Regions from separate parts of the Homo sapiens genome. Here regions 1 and 3 are each linked to region 2. The links come from fine-mapping of genetic effects on gene expression. A gene starts in region 2. Each other region holds a variant in brackets. All regions are shown on one strand. Distances are from middle to middle.

Region 1 (5,225 bases), 84 kb before region 2:
TGCAGGGATCCCCAGGAACATGGAGGCCTCACACCCCTACCCTGCAGGTCCCTTCCTTGTCATCCTTCCTTTACACTGCGCCCCAACCTGCCTCTCCATAGCTGGTGCCCCATAGCATGGGTCCTGGGCCCATCCTCCATGGTGTGTCATGGCTGTCCCAGGCAACCTACCCATGGGCCAGTCTGATTTGGGAGGCTGGGTTCCTCTGTGGCCACAGAACCAACCATCCCTTGGAGGCTGCCACAGTGGAGCTGGAGCAATAGCTGCCTTGCCTCTAAAAGCAAGACCATTTAGCACCAGCTAAAATGGCAGTCTAGACAGAGAGCTCCCACGGGCGGCTTCCACAGGGTGTGTGGACAGGGACAGGCCAGCCATTGTGCTGGACTGGCTGGAAGTGCAGCAGTGACAGGCAGATGAGCCACGCCTCCTGTTTACCACCAGCACCTGTTCTGACTGGTCAGAGGTCATGCCTACCATTAGTTAGTGGTCCCATCTCCTCTGCGAGAAGCTTGGGTTTGGCAGCCAGGAGGCTCTACCCCTCGCACCATCACACATCAGCTGTGTGGCAGGATCTAGATCATATCATCTTAGTCTCCTTCTCTGTAAAGCAGAGAAAATATAATACATGCCCCATAGCACTGCTGAGAATTTGCTGCAGACTCATGTATGCAAAGTGTTTAGTCCAATGTCCAGAACATATAAAGTGCTCACTAAATAGAACTCTGTTAGTGTTACTCCTGCTCAGCCTGCAGAATGACCTCGAAAAGGAGGAGCATGAAGACTTTTGGCAGGTGCCGTTTGGATTATACCCCACCCAGGCTTTTTTGCACCTTTGCAAAAAACACCTCTTTCCAGACGACTGACTTTGCAAACAAAGTCAGCTCCACCCTAAAATTGCAGGGCCTGAGATGGGGAGATCTCTTCTGTGGGCAACTCTCAAACCCATGATCTTGGCTATGTTAGCAGCCAGATGCCAAGGCCTATTATAGGTTGTCACCCTAACCCTGACTTTGGTCGTTGGCTGCCACAGGACCCTCTCAGTGGCCCAGATCTTCATGTCTCAGAAGCAGGGCAGGGGGTTAAATCTGTTGTGACAGATGTCACAGATGTTAACATATAAATGAGTAAATGAATCCAAGGCACAGGCTAACATGGACACCAGTTTCCCATGTATAGTAGCAGGCTCCCTCAGTTACAGAATCATGTCAATACTCATTTGTCAACCTAGTAGTGTTAACAATCTTTTCCTTATGTATGGTACCATATCACTTCCTCTACCTGGATTGTCAGTGAAAATTTCAGAGGCTAGGAATTAGAGTAGATCCCTGATAGCACAAGGGTGACTGATGTCCCAATCTTCACACACAAACCCAAAGCTGGCAATGTCCCTAAAGCACATCATTCCCTCCACAAAATACAATCATGTGTAACTGAAAATACTACAGACCCTTCCAGACTTCTGATGGGATGTACTGTGTATTCAACATTGAGTAAAGAAAAACAAAGCTACATCGGGATGTGGGTGCTGGACAGCACACTGGGCTCACTCACTGGCTCAGGGATGCTCACCTGCATGCCTGCCATCGAGTCCAGCCTCAGCCAAATGACAAGTCACTGCTCATCCTTTGCCGTCACTCACAAATCATGAAACCTCTCATGTGAAACCCACAAGACTTAAAGGTGTACTTCATCATTCCCATCTTACAATGAAGAAACCAAGGCACCAGCCTTTGTAACTTTCTTGAATCCTGTGGTTAAAGAAGGGATTCCAACCTCAATCTAATGCTCTCTATGCACCTCTCAAAATAATGACTCCTGCAACCCACACCCTAAGCTGTCTTGACTGGTACAAGCAGGATGGCAGTGGGCAGGGTCTACCTCTTTTGCGATCCAAAGCCCAAAATCCAGCCACGCCTAGACTGTTCCAGGCAGTGAATCCTGTGAATAAGAGCCACAGGCTTGCCCACACCCTCTAAATGTATCCAGCCACCCAACTGGGCCACCACCTCTGGTCCTGACTTGCAATAACCTACCCTCTGGGCTGTACCCCACCCCTGGCTCTAAGCCAGCATTAAATTCATTAAAACTAGCCATCATGCTGCCTATAACCTGAGGCCATCCCTTTTAAGAAGATCCTAGTATGCTTTACAGAGTGACACGAAGTAACTGGACAGCCACTCCATTCGTCCATCACTTGCCTCTTGTTTTATTTAGTCCTCCTGTGGCAGGTGCAGTTGTGGACCAGCTTCCAGCTCACCAGCACCCACAAGACCCTGACTCCTTTCTCCTCAGTAGGCAGCACCAGACTCTTACGTGGTGCCCACAGCAGTCTTTGCTCCTGCCAAGTCCCTGACTATACCATCCCGAACTTCAGGATGCCACCAAAGCCCTGGCAACTTACTCCAGCCTTCATTCCAGTGGTCCCTGAAGCTGCTGCTCCTCCTCCACTATTGACCCATTCTGTCCATGCCTCGGGGAAGCTCCCCTTACATCTTCCACTTCCTTCCCAAAGCTGGAGTGCATTTCTGGGGACTTCCCACCAACCCAGCCAGCTAAGCAGTCTAGCCTGGCTGCCATGGCCAACTTGTTGCAAAATGATTTCTGAGAATGTAAGGAGGCCTCTGGAGGTTGTGATGCAGCTGACAGTTCCACGCACAGGCACGCAGCGACCATAGCACCCAGCTCCGAGGGGACCAGAGGCAGCCCCTTGGCTCCCAGCACTGCCCAGCCCTCAAGGGCGCCCACGGGGGCTGACATTCATGGGCATGGGACAGAGCAGGAGAGGCACACAGGGAAAG[T/C]GGGGCAAGGAGAGGAGAAAGTACAAGTGACCTCAATCCTTGAGCTGGGCATTTCGCAACAGCCAGCCCTCTCCCGGCCCGGCCCATACCCGCACTCTCCTGGGGAAGCTGCCAGGCTTTTACATTTGTGTAGAGACAACCTCCCCGCCAAGCCTCCCACTAGCAATCCTGCCTTGACGTCAAACTCAGAGTCGGGGAACTTCAAACACAAACAAACAAGTCTAACCCAGACCACAAGTGGAGATATTCCCAAGGAGGCCAGGGGTGAGAACGGCCACAGCTGGGAGCTCAGGGCCTCCTACCCTTCCCTATGCTCCACTGGGAATGCAAAGTCTGAGGACCTGACAACAGACTGTAGATGGGAGATTCAACCCCAGGCTGAGACAAAACGAGCTCACTTGTCTAAGAGTATGACTGACTGCCTTTGGCTGGTGCAGCAGTGGGTGCAGGAGACCCTGTATGGAAGCACTGATGAGTTAGCTCCTCTGTGCAACTAAGCACCCACCTTAGATAAATCACATAAATCACCTGTTCCCACTGCTCCAGTACTAAGCATGAGCAGTCAGGGAAAGAAGACTATGAGGTCAACTATGGTTTAAAAGCACCCATGATGCTTCCTGGGAAATGCAAAGCTTGAGCTGGGCCAGAGTGAATGGCCAAGGGCCCGAGTTTTCTCAGCAACAACTGCTAGGCCATTTTATGTGCCACGGAGGTTGTGAGATGCAGCAGAACCAAAGAGGAAGGCATTTCCCTGACCTAACAGCCTAATACAGCTCCCACCTGCAAAGCCAAGGTGAGTCAAAACACTGCTCTTCAGAAAGCAATTATTTGAAAAGTCAGTAAATGATCTGTCTTGATCTGCCTTTCAAGTTTTCCTTCCTGCCTCAATTGATGTAACCCCCCAATATCTCATGTGTTGTTAGTACCAGCAGTCCTTAGGGGCTGTGGGGACCAACAGGACTAAATCATGAGAAAGAAAGACACCCACTTTACCCCCTAACTCCCCTGTGCCTGAAGCAATTGAATAACGGCAACAAAGGACTTCTGACCATCATCCAGTCATTCAACAACCAAACCTCTTCCCAATGCCCGGCACCGTTGGACTCCAAGGACAACGGTCGTAAGCGGCAGGGGTCCATAATTTTCAGGAACCCACACAAGTTGGGGGAACAGATGTGTCCGCACAGACACCTGACCGAGGGCTAGGAAAGGCAAAGCAACAGACAGCAGGTCTAAGCGTCCATGACACAGCAGCCCTGCTGCTCGGTGCTTCTGCTGGGAGGCTGAGGGAAGTGCTGGCCCAGGTGTCAGGAGCCACAGGTGTGGTGTTGCTCACAGACCAGATACTTCATCAACACGGCCTGTGTCCCAGTTCAAACACACACTCCATGTGTTTGTCTGAAGGTCACCAGGCCCACAGGGCACAGCCACGAACTAGTTTACCCCCTCAGCTCAACCCCTCAATCACAACAGGTAATCCTGGAGTATTCCTGACATTGCCAACTGAAAGGCACCTGGGTGTGAATTACCAAGCAGGGGCCTAGTGAAAAAGGCAGAGGCTGCACCTAATGGCAAAAGTAGATTTCTGCCAATGGGCCAAACCCCTTACCTATCCTTAAGGCCTGTTCCCTAGGGAGACTCTGGAAGGGAGGGATGGGGAAGGCAAGGCACCTTAAACTCTGACCTATATGCACCAACTATGAGAAGGAGACTGTGCCCAATGCTGGAAAGATAGAGGGCTTTCTTTCCAGGGATGTGACTGTTGGCTTAGCAACTCAGGCCATCACAGAAAAGGACAAAGGGCTGGACAGGGGCAAGGGGCAATGACAGATGAGTGCCCCAGACACCAGGGATCAATGAATGCATTGTGAACTCCCCCAGAAGGATGAGGGGCGCCCGAACCGCCACACCCTGTGGAGCACCATGCTCAGACTGCTCATCTCCACCTAATATCAGCTCCCAGCTTCTCCCTTGCCCACAGGACCCAGTTTTGTTCAGGGTAGCACTGTGCCCAGTGATGAACTGGTCTCAGTCAGTGGCTCGCAGCCCAGTCTTCACATCACAACCCACGAGCCTTGGCTTCAGCGAGTGTGACATAATTGATCCGGAATGGGGTCCCTGCACAGCCATCATGATGATTCAGTCCCCACTTTCAGCTTCCCTTGAAGCTGGTTACCTGTGACAGTTTTGGCTAATGAGGCATGAGGACTTGCTTGCTAGGGGACCTGCTGGGAAAGCATGGGACAGATCTTGGGGCTGCCCAACACCTCCTGCCCATTTTGAAAACAGACAAGCTGCAGTGGCCATCTCGCAACCACAAGGATGGCAAGAGCTGCCTGGAAAACCAGAGACAGTATCCCTGTTCAGCTGCAAAACCAGCACACGTGTGCCACCTAACTCCAGACTCATTGTAGGAGAAACATAATG
Region 2 (5,225 bases):
AGTATCAGCACGGACTGACAGACAAAATGCTGCAGGTGTGAGCAGTCTCGTTCCTATTTTACAGACAGGAGAGCTTGAGATTCAGAAGTCATGGGACTTGCCTAAGGTCACACAGACAGAACCCAGGCCCAGTATGAAAGCCATGGGGCTTCCTATTCACCACGCTGCTCCTATGGCAAAGATTCTTCTAATAAACTTAACCCCTATGTTATGGGTTCAGTAAATCTGGATTTTAGAACCATTCTTAAAGAGGGTTATTCTTAAACCAGGGTAGTATAAAAACAATCACAAACATTTGATTTCACCCAACCAAGTCTCCTTCTCTAACCTAGAGAATTTCGAGCTTCCAGAGCCCTCAGAGATCCACTCCAGCCTCCTTGTTTTGCAGGTGAGGAGGCTGAGGCCTCCGGGATGAAGTGACTCATCTAAACTAGCTGGTGGCAGCCCCATGGAACTCACTCCAGGGGTCTAAATTCCCATCCCCCAAAACAACCCAGGCCCTGCCTTTTCAGGAAGTGGAGTGAACCCGAATCCACATCACGGTGGGAAGAACAGGGAGCTGCAGATCCCCTGTGGGCCTTTGGATGGGTTCTCTGCTGCCAGGGATGATCGTCTAAACAAACACTCAGGAGGGAAGCCACTGAATAAACCAGCTCCAACACTTAAATAGCTGGATGCTCTGGGGTGTCATGAACGCCACACTGCCATCAAAATGAGGGACTCCGGAAGTTAGGGTAGGACAAAAGGCCATTCCAGAGAATGCACAGCAAGTGGTTCTCCTATATACACACTCTGGAAGCCAGGAGCACTTCAGAGCAACGTGGGGACAATCCCACAGAGGCCAACACAGAGAGCATTCTCCAAGCCCAGCAACACCGAAGTCCAACCACGCACACTCTGCCAGACAGCGACCCCTCCTCCCGGAACTGAGCCTCACAGGCCCCCTATTGTTGTCAGCTTAAAAACTGAACTTTGCTGAGCAAACACACTCAGCTGTGTTCAAAAAATCAGTTTCTCTCAATACTTGGAAAACTGCAGCATGCATGCAGAAAGGCCAGTTGTAGGGGGTTTTGTTTGTTTTTTAAGCAAAGCCTTGGTCAGTACAGCTTTAGCCAACTGTAATAAAAAATAATAATACCCAGCACTGACTGTATTCTTCCAATGTCCTGTGGTTTTATAGCTTTTAAGAAAATAAAACTGAGGGAGAGTCACCCCCGAGCATTTGGAATCAAACAAGGATTCGGCTTTGTGGCATGCCTGGAGGAAGGATTGGTCTTGTAATAATTACCGCGATCACAGAGGGCCTTATGACAGCTGGCAGAGGCAATTAGCAATAAGGGGCGGGGGGAGGGTTTGGGGGAGGAGAAATTGAGGATCTAATAAAACAAAACATCCCCAGACCTGCAGGAGGCCAGATGTGGCAGGGCAAGATGGTGAGAGGTTCCTTCTTCAAGACGGGGCAGCTATTAACTGGTCTGACGTTTCACCGCCCCGTCCCTGGCCAAAATCACATTCAGAATCCACTAGTTGCCCTCATTTGTGTATGGACAGGGTGCCCCAACAACCCTCGGGCTGGTTTTTCCAAATCCTTCAGATACTTCCCCAGCTATAATTTGAGAGAGGAAGGCCCGCATATCTTATTTCTTCTTTACACTCCAGACTGTCTCCATCAGAACCCTTTAAACAGTTTCATCTTCCCACCAAAGGCTTGCTTCCCAGCATAATCCTTCCTAAGCCTAAATCCAATCTTTGGGGGGAAGCAGGGGGAGTCAGCGGGTAATTATTAATACATTTTAAGCAGCGAGCCTCCGTGGCAACGTGAAAGGAAAGCACCAAACGCCTGAATAACAAAAATGCAGTTTCAGCAACACTTTTTGAAAAGGCGGCAGACAAGACCTGAGAGGAGAGGAAAGGAAGGGACAGGACGGCGTCTGGGGCGTGAGGGGAACAGGGGACGGCAGGCCTGCGATCACGCTTCAGGGGAACCTCCTCCGTCACCCTGGCCCACGGGTGCTCGGCTCAGTCACACGGGGAAAAGTCCAGCTTGTGACTCGGTGGGACAACGAGTCCTGCGGCCCCGCAAACTGGAAATGGGGTGGGGGCGGAGAAGGGGGGAAAGGGGATGTCCGCGCGCAGCCCACCCCGCACGGGCCCCTCGAGCCTCCATCCCAGTTCCCACGACGCACCCGCCCCACAAATCCTGCCCAAGATGAGGGCTGGTCCCGGGTCCTCCGGCTGCCGCATCAGCGAGTGCAGGAGGGAGGGGAAGCCTCCAAGGGGGGCGACGCGGGCTCAAGGATGCAACTCGGCCAGGAGTACTGGGGCCCGGAGGGAGGTGTCCGGGCCCGCTCCTCGAGCCCAGCCTGGTCCCCGACCCACTTACCTCCAGGGTCCGTATCTCCTGCTGGGTGAGGTCGTTGGACACAGCGCACTTGGTGCGCAGCCCGCGCAGGCTGCCGATGGAGATGTCGATGAGCTTCTGGAGCTGCCCGCACTGCTGCAGCGCCCGGCTGGCCGCGGCCCCTGCGCCTCCCTCCGCGGCCGCCGCATCCCCCCCGCCACCGCCCTCCTTCTTCTCTCCCATCGCCGCCGCGCGCAGCGCTGCTCTATCCATGCCTCGGCATCGGGGCCGCGGCGGCCGAGGCTGGGAGCCCGGGGCGCGGGCGCCTCGGCAAGGAACCCCCGAGCCAGGAGAGCTGGACCAGGAGCGCCCCTCGGCGCTGCCCGAGCCGGGACGCCGGTAGAGCCGGCCGCTGAGTCTGCCGCTTCCACCCTCCCAGCCGCGGCAGCAAAGCGAAAGCCGCGGCGACCCGACGGCTGCGGCTCCCGGAGCCTTTAAGCGGCGGCGGGGGCTGGGTCAGGGCGGCCGGGCATGCTGGGACTTGTAGTCCACGCCGCGCACCTGCCGCCGGCCTCCGCCCTCGGGGCCCCGGACCGCGCCCGCGCCGCCCTCCCTGCCCTCCTCTCCCCTCCCCTCCCGGCGGCCGCGGCGAGGCAGGCGGTGAGGGCCGGCCCCAACCGGGAGCCCCGGGTGGAGCTGCTCCGCGCCAGCTCCTCCCCCAGGCGCCGAGAGTCGGGGGAGCAGCGTCTCCCCGTCCGCCTCCGTCCCCCACCCGGCCTAGGAGCTTCCCGCGACCCCCGGATGGGGCGGCGCCCCCTGGACGCCCGGCGGGTGTGCGTCCCGCAGTTCCTCAGCTGCAGCCCAGCCCTGGAAGATGGGGACCAGGGAGGTTCCAGGATTTGTATGTGGGTTTAGGGGCTGCCATCTAGTGGGAAGGGGCTTACAGCACTTCTGTAGCTGGCTCACAAAGCGCTCTACTCTGGACTGCCTGCGCCAAAACGATTGCTCAGGCTTGGAGAAAGACGAAGAGCTTTCTTCTGAACCACATTTACCTGCCAAAATAAGTGTCCCATTCCCCCGCCATTCCCAGCCCACCAAGCCAGCCCAGACACGGGGGACAGCACACTGAATTGTCGGTGGCTTCGGAGCAAGTGGCCAGGATTCAAATTCTGACTCCACCACGGTCTAGGGTGAGACTTTGGGCACGTTCGATTTCCAGTGAATGCCCGACTCTCCTCATCAAATAACTCTTTAATAGGGTTCCTATGAAGAATCAGTTAATACATGTACAGCACCTAGATTGATTACTGGCACATGTGGTCGCTGGATAAATGTTAGCAATTCTTACTATCTAACCTCAGATCTGAATGTGGCCCTGGACCCAGGTAGTGGCCATGGAGCAGTACAGTACTGCCAAGGACTGGTAGTCCTTTGTCCTCTGTGCATTTCTGTGCCTCCTAACCCAGCAATCAAGCCTTGCCCATCTGTTCACCCTCCTCTCCCATTAGTTCACCCCATGCGTTCTATTATCTGGCAAAACTGAAAAACCAAGTCTCTGATCAAAGCTCCCACACCTTCATGCTTTCGACATCTGTCAACCAGAAAAAATGTCTCCCCTCTCAATTTTCTCTTGTAAGCTGCTTGATTGCAGAAGCCACTAGCTATTGTACCCTCTTTATAGTGCCAGATACAGTGCATGGCACACAAGAAAGGCTCCAGCGTGCCTCAGGAGCTCTTTCAGCAGGTCCTATGGGATGTTTCTTTTACCTCTCAGGCCAGCCGAGGGTGTGTGTGTGTGTGTAGATAGACAGTTGTTTTTTTGGTTTTGTTTTTGTGTTTGAGGATGAGAATTGGACAGGAGGTGGGATCCAAACCTTGTAGACACTAAAACAATCAATAATGGATGGCAGTTTGTATTACACCTTCCTTTAATGTTTATATTACACCAGCCTTCGAAATAAATTAAGGGCTGGGCACCGTGGCTCATGCCTGTAATGCCAGCACTTTTGAGAGGCCAAGGGGGAAGGATCACTTAAAGCCAGGAGTTCGAGACCAGCCTGGGCAATGTGACAAGACCCTGTCTCTAAAAAAAATAATAAATTTTTAAAAATCAGGTCTAGGAAGCAAAACTATAACTTTAAAACTTGTTTTTGCAAATTAACCCCTCCTCGAGATTTTCCAAATGCAAGGAGGTTCCTCCCTAACCCCTGGCCTTTCCCATTGAGAGTCATTGATCCAGTCCTCACTCAACTTATAAAAAGACCGCCTGCACGATATTATGAATTTCTCAACCTGTTACCTTAACCCCATCCGACTCCTTGCAAAGTAGTAACTATTATGAAAGGGAAACTAGTTGTGGTTCTCAAACTTGAACATGCATCAGAATCACTTGGAGGGCTTGTTAATTCCCAGAACCATGGAGCTCACCTCTATAGTTTCTAATTTTGTAGATCAGAGGACAGGGCAGGAGAATCTGCATTTCTATCAGGTTCTCAGGTGGTACTGATGTGGTTAGTCTGAGCCCAGTCGCAAGTCTATACTTTGAGAAGCCTAGGCACAGAGGAAGGTCAGTGGGCAGAGAACTATCTCAAGGGACTATCCACAACCCAACCTGGCTGGTTCAGAGCCTCTGTCCAGCAGCCAGAGCTGCCAGGCTTGAACGACTCACTCATTCTAACACAATTCACAAAAGATTTTTTTTTTTTTGAAACAGGGTCTTGCTCTGTCACTCAGGCTGGAGTACAGTAGCATGATCATGGCTCAGTGCAGCCTCGACCTCCCAGACTCAGGCGATCCTCCCACCCCAGCTTCCCAAGTAGCTGGGACTATAGGAGTGTGCCACCATGCCCGGCTAACGTTAACTTTTTTTTTTTTTTCCTTTTTT
Region 3 (5,225 bases), 120 kb before region 2:
GCAGAATTTTAAGGTGGTCTTGTGACCTTTGTCCCCTGGTGTTGCTCCTGATCTTGTTACATTACAGAAGTCTCCCTCTTATCTGCAGTTTCAGTTACCAGCAGCCAACCATAGCCTAAAACTATTAAATGGAAAATGCCAGAAACATTCCAGAAATAAACAATTTATAGTTTTAAACTATGCACCATTCTGAGTAATGTGATGAAATCTTGCGCCATCCAGCTCCATCCCACCGGAGACGTGAATTGTCCCTTTGTCCAGCGTCTCCACACTGTCTCCACTCCCGGCCTGTTTGTCACTTAGTAGCTATCTTGGTTATCAGATCAACTGCCACGACCTCTCCCCACATAGGCACTTTATCATCTCACAGCATCACAAGATGAGGGGTGAGAACAGTACAGTAAGATATTTTGAGAGAGAGAAGAGAGACCACATTCCTGTAACTTTCATTATAGTGTATTGTTATAATTGCTCTATTTTGTTATTGTTGATTATTAATCTCTTACTGTGCCCAACTTACTAACTTTATCAGAGGTATGTATGTATAGGAAAAAACACAGTATACATCATATATATATATATTCAGTACTATCCATGGTTTCAGGCATCCACTGAGGGTCCTGGAACATATCCCCTACAGAAAAGGGGGTATTACTATATACAGCAAAAGGGAAATTATCCAAGTAGGCTTCATCCAATCACAAGAGCCCTTTAAAAGCAAAGGGTTCTCTTGAGCTGGTAACAGAGAAGTCAAGAGACCTGAAGCGTGAAAAGCAGACTTTGAAGGAGGAGGGGAATGGGGGTGGCCTCTGGGAAAAAAAGTAGCCCCTGGCTGACAGCCATTGAGGGAATGAGGACCTCAGACCTCCAGCCACAAGGAAATGGATTCTGCCAATAACCTGAATGAACGTGAAGTGGATTCTTCTCCAGAACTTCCAGGTAAGAGGAAGGCCTGGCCTACACCTTGACCTCAGCCTTGTGAGATCCCAAGTAGGGATATAAGCAGAGCCTGAGTGGATTCCTCCACCTAGAGAACCATGAGATGATAAGCGGGTGGTGTGTTAAGCTGCTAAATTTGTTATGAAGCAATGGAAAATACAAAGAATGAATGGTAGAATCAAGGCTCAGTGGACTTCAAAACTTGTGCCCTTTCCTCTCATCAGGGAGGGAGGAAACCTCTCCAGCTCTGACTACTTTGAGCCACATGACACTGTCAGAGGCACTGGAACCAGAGCCATTCCATCTTGAATAGGGGCTGGGTAAAATGAGGGTGAGACCTGCTGTGCTGCATCCCCAGGAAGTCAGGCATTCTTAATCATAGGGTGAGAGAGAAGGTCACAAGATACAGGTCACAAAGACCCCATGATAAAACAGGATGAGCTAAAGAAGCCAGCCAAAACCCACCAAAACCAAGATGGTATCCCAAGTGACCTCTGGTCTTCCTCACTGCTCATTATATGCTCATTATAATGCATTAGCATGCTAAAAGACACTCCCACCGGCACCATGACAGTCTACAAATGCCATGGCAATGCCCAGAAGTTACCCTATATGGTCTAAAGAGGGGGAGGGGCCCTCAGTTCCAGGAATTGCCTGCCCCTTTCCCAGAAAATTCACAAATAATCTACCCCAGTTTAGCATATGGTCAAGAAATAACCATGAAAATAGCTAACTAGCAGCCCTCAGGGCTGCTCTGCCTACGGGGTTGCTATTCTTTTGTTTCTCCACTTCTCTAATAAACTTGCCTTCATTTTATTCTGTGGACTCACCCAGGATTCTTTTTTGTGCAAGACTCAAGAACCCTCTTTTGGGATCCAGAATGGGACCCCTATATCCAGCAACAATACCAAACCTGGGACAAATATAAAAAACCAATGGGACATGCCTCTGGTCTCAAGTGGCCTACAGCCCAGTGGGAGGAGTGACAGACATTTAAACAGGTAACTACAATGCAGTAAGATGCGCACTAGAGCAGAGAGAGTTCAAAGAGCTATGGGACCAGATCAGACCTTTTTTTGTCTTTAACCCTTTCTATATTTTCCAGATTTTCTGTAACAGAGAAGGCCAGACATTCCACATCAAATGACTGCTATAAAGCTCACAGTTCTTGAGAATCTAAGCCAATCCTGATTTTTAGCAAGTTGTGTCTAATTTTACTTTTAAGGACTAATTTCATTGTCATTCCATTTACATGCTGTAATTCCTTGTCTCAAGCGTCAAAACTAACCCTAATGAAGATACTGGCTGAGTCCTGAAGGTATGAGGCCCAACCCATACCCCTCTCTCCCATAGCAAGGCTGGAGCTAGATGCCTGCCTTTCTGTATTTGTTTGTTTTTTACTGTACCCGCTGACGGCAGATGCTTTTGTAGCTTTTCAGTATATTCTTCAATCTTCAGGGCTGTAGGCAAGAATCACATCACCACTTAGCATGATCACACCAAAATAAAGCCAGACACATAACTGTACCAAGAAGCTCATCACTGGTTGGCCAAAACCCTGGTTGCCTTCCAGAAGATAAAACTAAAGTGTCACAGGAACCACTGATGAGAACGGCACCAGCAGGGGAGGCAGATTAGACAAATGGTGCCATGCAGAAGCTTCTATACAATCAACATGTCTTGCTTTCTTTCCCTTAGCCTGTCTTCCACTGAAATGAGGTTTGGATATCTTTGCCCTCATTTGACTGTTAAGAGCACCTTGGCGATACCGTCAGGGTAAGCACAAGAGCAACCTTCACCTTATCTGAACAAAGCAATCCTCTACTTGTCCGGAAGGGTGTCCTCAGTTTGTCTCTCCACCACATACTCCAAGGCTGTGATGACTCAGCAGTTTGCCCAGATGATGATAGAGATGTTTAA[T/C]GGGGCTGGGGAGGGAGCCAGGCTGAGGAAACCCAATCTTCAACCTAACTATAATGCAAATAGGGATTCTTTTTCTTTCTTTTTATTCATCTCCTCCTCACCCATACCAAGTTTCAAGTTCTCAAAGTAACTACATTTATTATTACAAACTATTTGCCAGAACAATATGCCTAGGGCTTTGTATACATTATTTTATCTTTAATCAACTCCGCAAGTAGATGGAGTTAAGTCCATCTTACTGAGGCTCAGAGACTTCACAGCTTAACAAGTGGCTGAGCAGAATTGAAACCCACGTGCGCACGATTCCAAACCTCCTCCAAATATTCCATGCTGTCCACTTGTTAACCTGGCAAAGCCTTGGGATACAGCAGCTACCTTTCAGGGGAAATTATTTTTTTCGAAGTAAATTAATTTCTACCTACTTTCAGAAAATAGAAGTGAGGTACAGAAACAGCTGGATTGGTTACAGCTCCTTTGCCTTATTTGAACAAGATTCGAACAGTTGGCTACATTTGATTGGCACAAGTGCAGTCTACAGTGTTTTTATACCTCCACTTGTTATAGTTCATGATATACAGAAAAACCTTTAGGCTGAACTTAAAATATCTAAGGAGGTAGCTCTAGGCTAAACTTGATTTAACACACTTCTCTGCCTTTTTACTGAACAAGAAACCCAACGGCAGCAATGGCAATGCTAAACAGAAAACCCCCGCTTTCCTCCCTTGGTGTTGGGGAAAGGGGCAGGCAATGGAGGGGCACCAGAACTTCTGGTTTTAAAGAAATCTGAATTTTTATTTTTAAATGGCTGGCTTTTACATGGTGATAACTAATTCAAATCTGTGCAAACAAAACAAATTATGTCCATGAGGAACATGGGGCTTCCAGGCCTAAGCGCGGAGACCCCATGGGAAGAATCTGATGCCTTCCAAGGTTAATCTGATCAGTGAGTGACATCTAAAACTTTATTTCTGTAGGCAAACGGGGGAGGATGCAGGCCCAGTAGCAAGTACTCCAGGGGACCAGGCTTTCTCAGTGAGGGGCCCACCCTGGAAACAAAGTGCCCCACCTCCCAACTCTACAACTGACTCTGAGACCCAATGTTAACTTAATCAAGAAAGGAAAGCTACCAGGACGGTCGCGTGGCTGTGAAGGCCCCTGCGAGGGGCCCTGATATCTCCCAGTATCATGACTCAACAGTGCCCCAAAGCAACTCAGCACCCCCGAAACCTCACACATGGATGTGACTCGCCCACCCACAGTGACAGGCACAGCCAAGTCTGATTTAGGAAGATGTTTTCAAAGCAGAGTAACTCACAACTTTCCTGGATCATCTCTAAACCAAAAACAAATTAGGGAATCAGTTTTGCCACCTGCTGAAGGTGAACTCGCAGGTGAAGCCACTCTGAAACCTTCTCAGGTCTGAGAGGCTCCAGTGCCCCAGGAGGGCATCCCATCTGCCAGGAGGTGCCCAGAAGATGCTAAGTTGTCTCAAAGCCAAGGGCAAAAGGCCCCTCTCTCTGCCCATACCCCAAAGTTCTGGAGAACCCGGCTGGGAGTCCGTACTGCCTCCAAGGAATTACTGCCCACCCCAGCTTCTGTCTAAAGAACAAAATATGGAACTACAAACCAAAAACGGAAGACATGGATGCCCAGACCATCATAGGAGATGCCCAATCCATCTTGAGAGATGCCCAGTCCCAGCTCCGACAAGTCTCAGGGTTAGCATGGGTGCACACAGGTGGGGATGCAGGAATGAGGAGCAGAGTGACAGCATCAGAGATCATTGGCTCCCTGCCTCTGCCTGTCTCTCTCAAACCAGGAGATATGTTCTCCAGTAGGTGGGATTAAGTTATTCTTTCTGATAATAATTGGAGAGCAGGGCCAGTTGAGTGCTGAGGTCACTCCCAGTCTGTGACAATCCAGTCATGTCATTAGCAGGAGACTGCTGGTCTCCATTCTCTCCAGTGGAGGGTGAGGATGGGTTTGGGCAACGTGCTACCCCCTCCCCCAGCAGCTGGCAGAGGCTGGCGTCACAGGCCATGCTGGGTAAGCCGGCAGCTCAGGGCCAGTTAGGTATCAAATGGTATCCAGGGATTTACTAGCAGCCACGGGGCTGCCTGGGGTCTATACTTAGAAACCTGGGCCTGCTGACACTGAGAGGCGCCACACTCCCTGTGGCCAGTCAGGTGGACCAGGAAAATGCCAGGGGCGGCACCGCTGCTGTACCGGCCACGTATACAAACACACTGCACTTCACGCAAGAACACGGGTGAAAGCTGGGTTGAAGGAAGATCAAGAAGCAAACCCAGGCTCTGTGTTTCTGTTCAGTTTTGCATCCCTAGAACATGCCTCAGGCAGTGCTGCTG

Alleles and levels. Positions count from the first base shown, and alleles are read on the strand shown. Sizes are in standard deviations (SD) of each study's normalised expression.
In carriers of allele T in region 1, the expression in monocytes after Pam3CSK4 of the gene that starts at base 2,810 in region 2 tends to be lower than with C alone (moderate effect, 0.67 SD a copy in Quach 2016).
For the expression in fibroblasts of the gene that starts at base 2,810 in region 2, C is the low allele of the variant in region 3 and T is the other (small effect, 0.22 SD a copy in GTEx).

The links. PIP is the estimated chance that this variant, and not a neighbour inherited with it, causes the effect.
Region 1: its variant is the best candidate, but not a certain one, in a credible set for the expression of KSR1 in monocytes after Pam3CSK4 (Quach 2016, PIP 0.67).
Region 3: its variant is the best candidate, but not a certain one, in a credible set for the expression of KSR1 in fibroblasts (GTEx, PIP 0.76).

The regions. Positions count from the first base shown.
Region 1 is chr17:27,538,241-27,543,465 of GRCh38, reverse strand. All of the region lies in intron 1 of KSR1 (kinase suppressor of ras 1), which reads right to left. It overlaps LOC124903960 (a long non-coding RNA gene), which reads left to right. Exons shown (of 2, transcript XR_007065680.1): 2 at 1-3,667. Among named protein-coding and RNA genes, the nearest start is that of KSR1, 84 kb to the right of the region's middle. RefSeq lists enhancers at 1-159, 160-660, 2,470-3,269, 4,441-5,225. The variant T/C (reference allele first, on the strand shown) is at 2,799.
Region 2 is chr17:27,454,033-27,459,257 of GRCh38, reverse strand. KSR1 (kinase suppressor of ras 1) reads right to left here and starts at 2,810. Exons shown (of 21, transcript NM_001394583.1): 1 at 2,384-2,810. The coding sequence starts at 2,614. RefSeq lists silencers at 1,951-2,000, 2,521-3,280 and an enhancer at 2,644-3,145.
Region 3 is chr17:27,571,667-27,576,891 of GRCh38, reverse strand. All of the region lies in intron 2 of KSR1 (kinase suppressor of ras 1), which reads right to left. Among named protein-coding and RNA genes, the nearest start is that of LGALS9, 57 kb to the left of the region's middle. The variant T/C (reference allele first, on the strand shown) is at 2,860.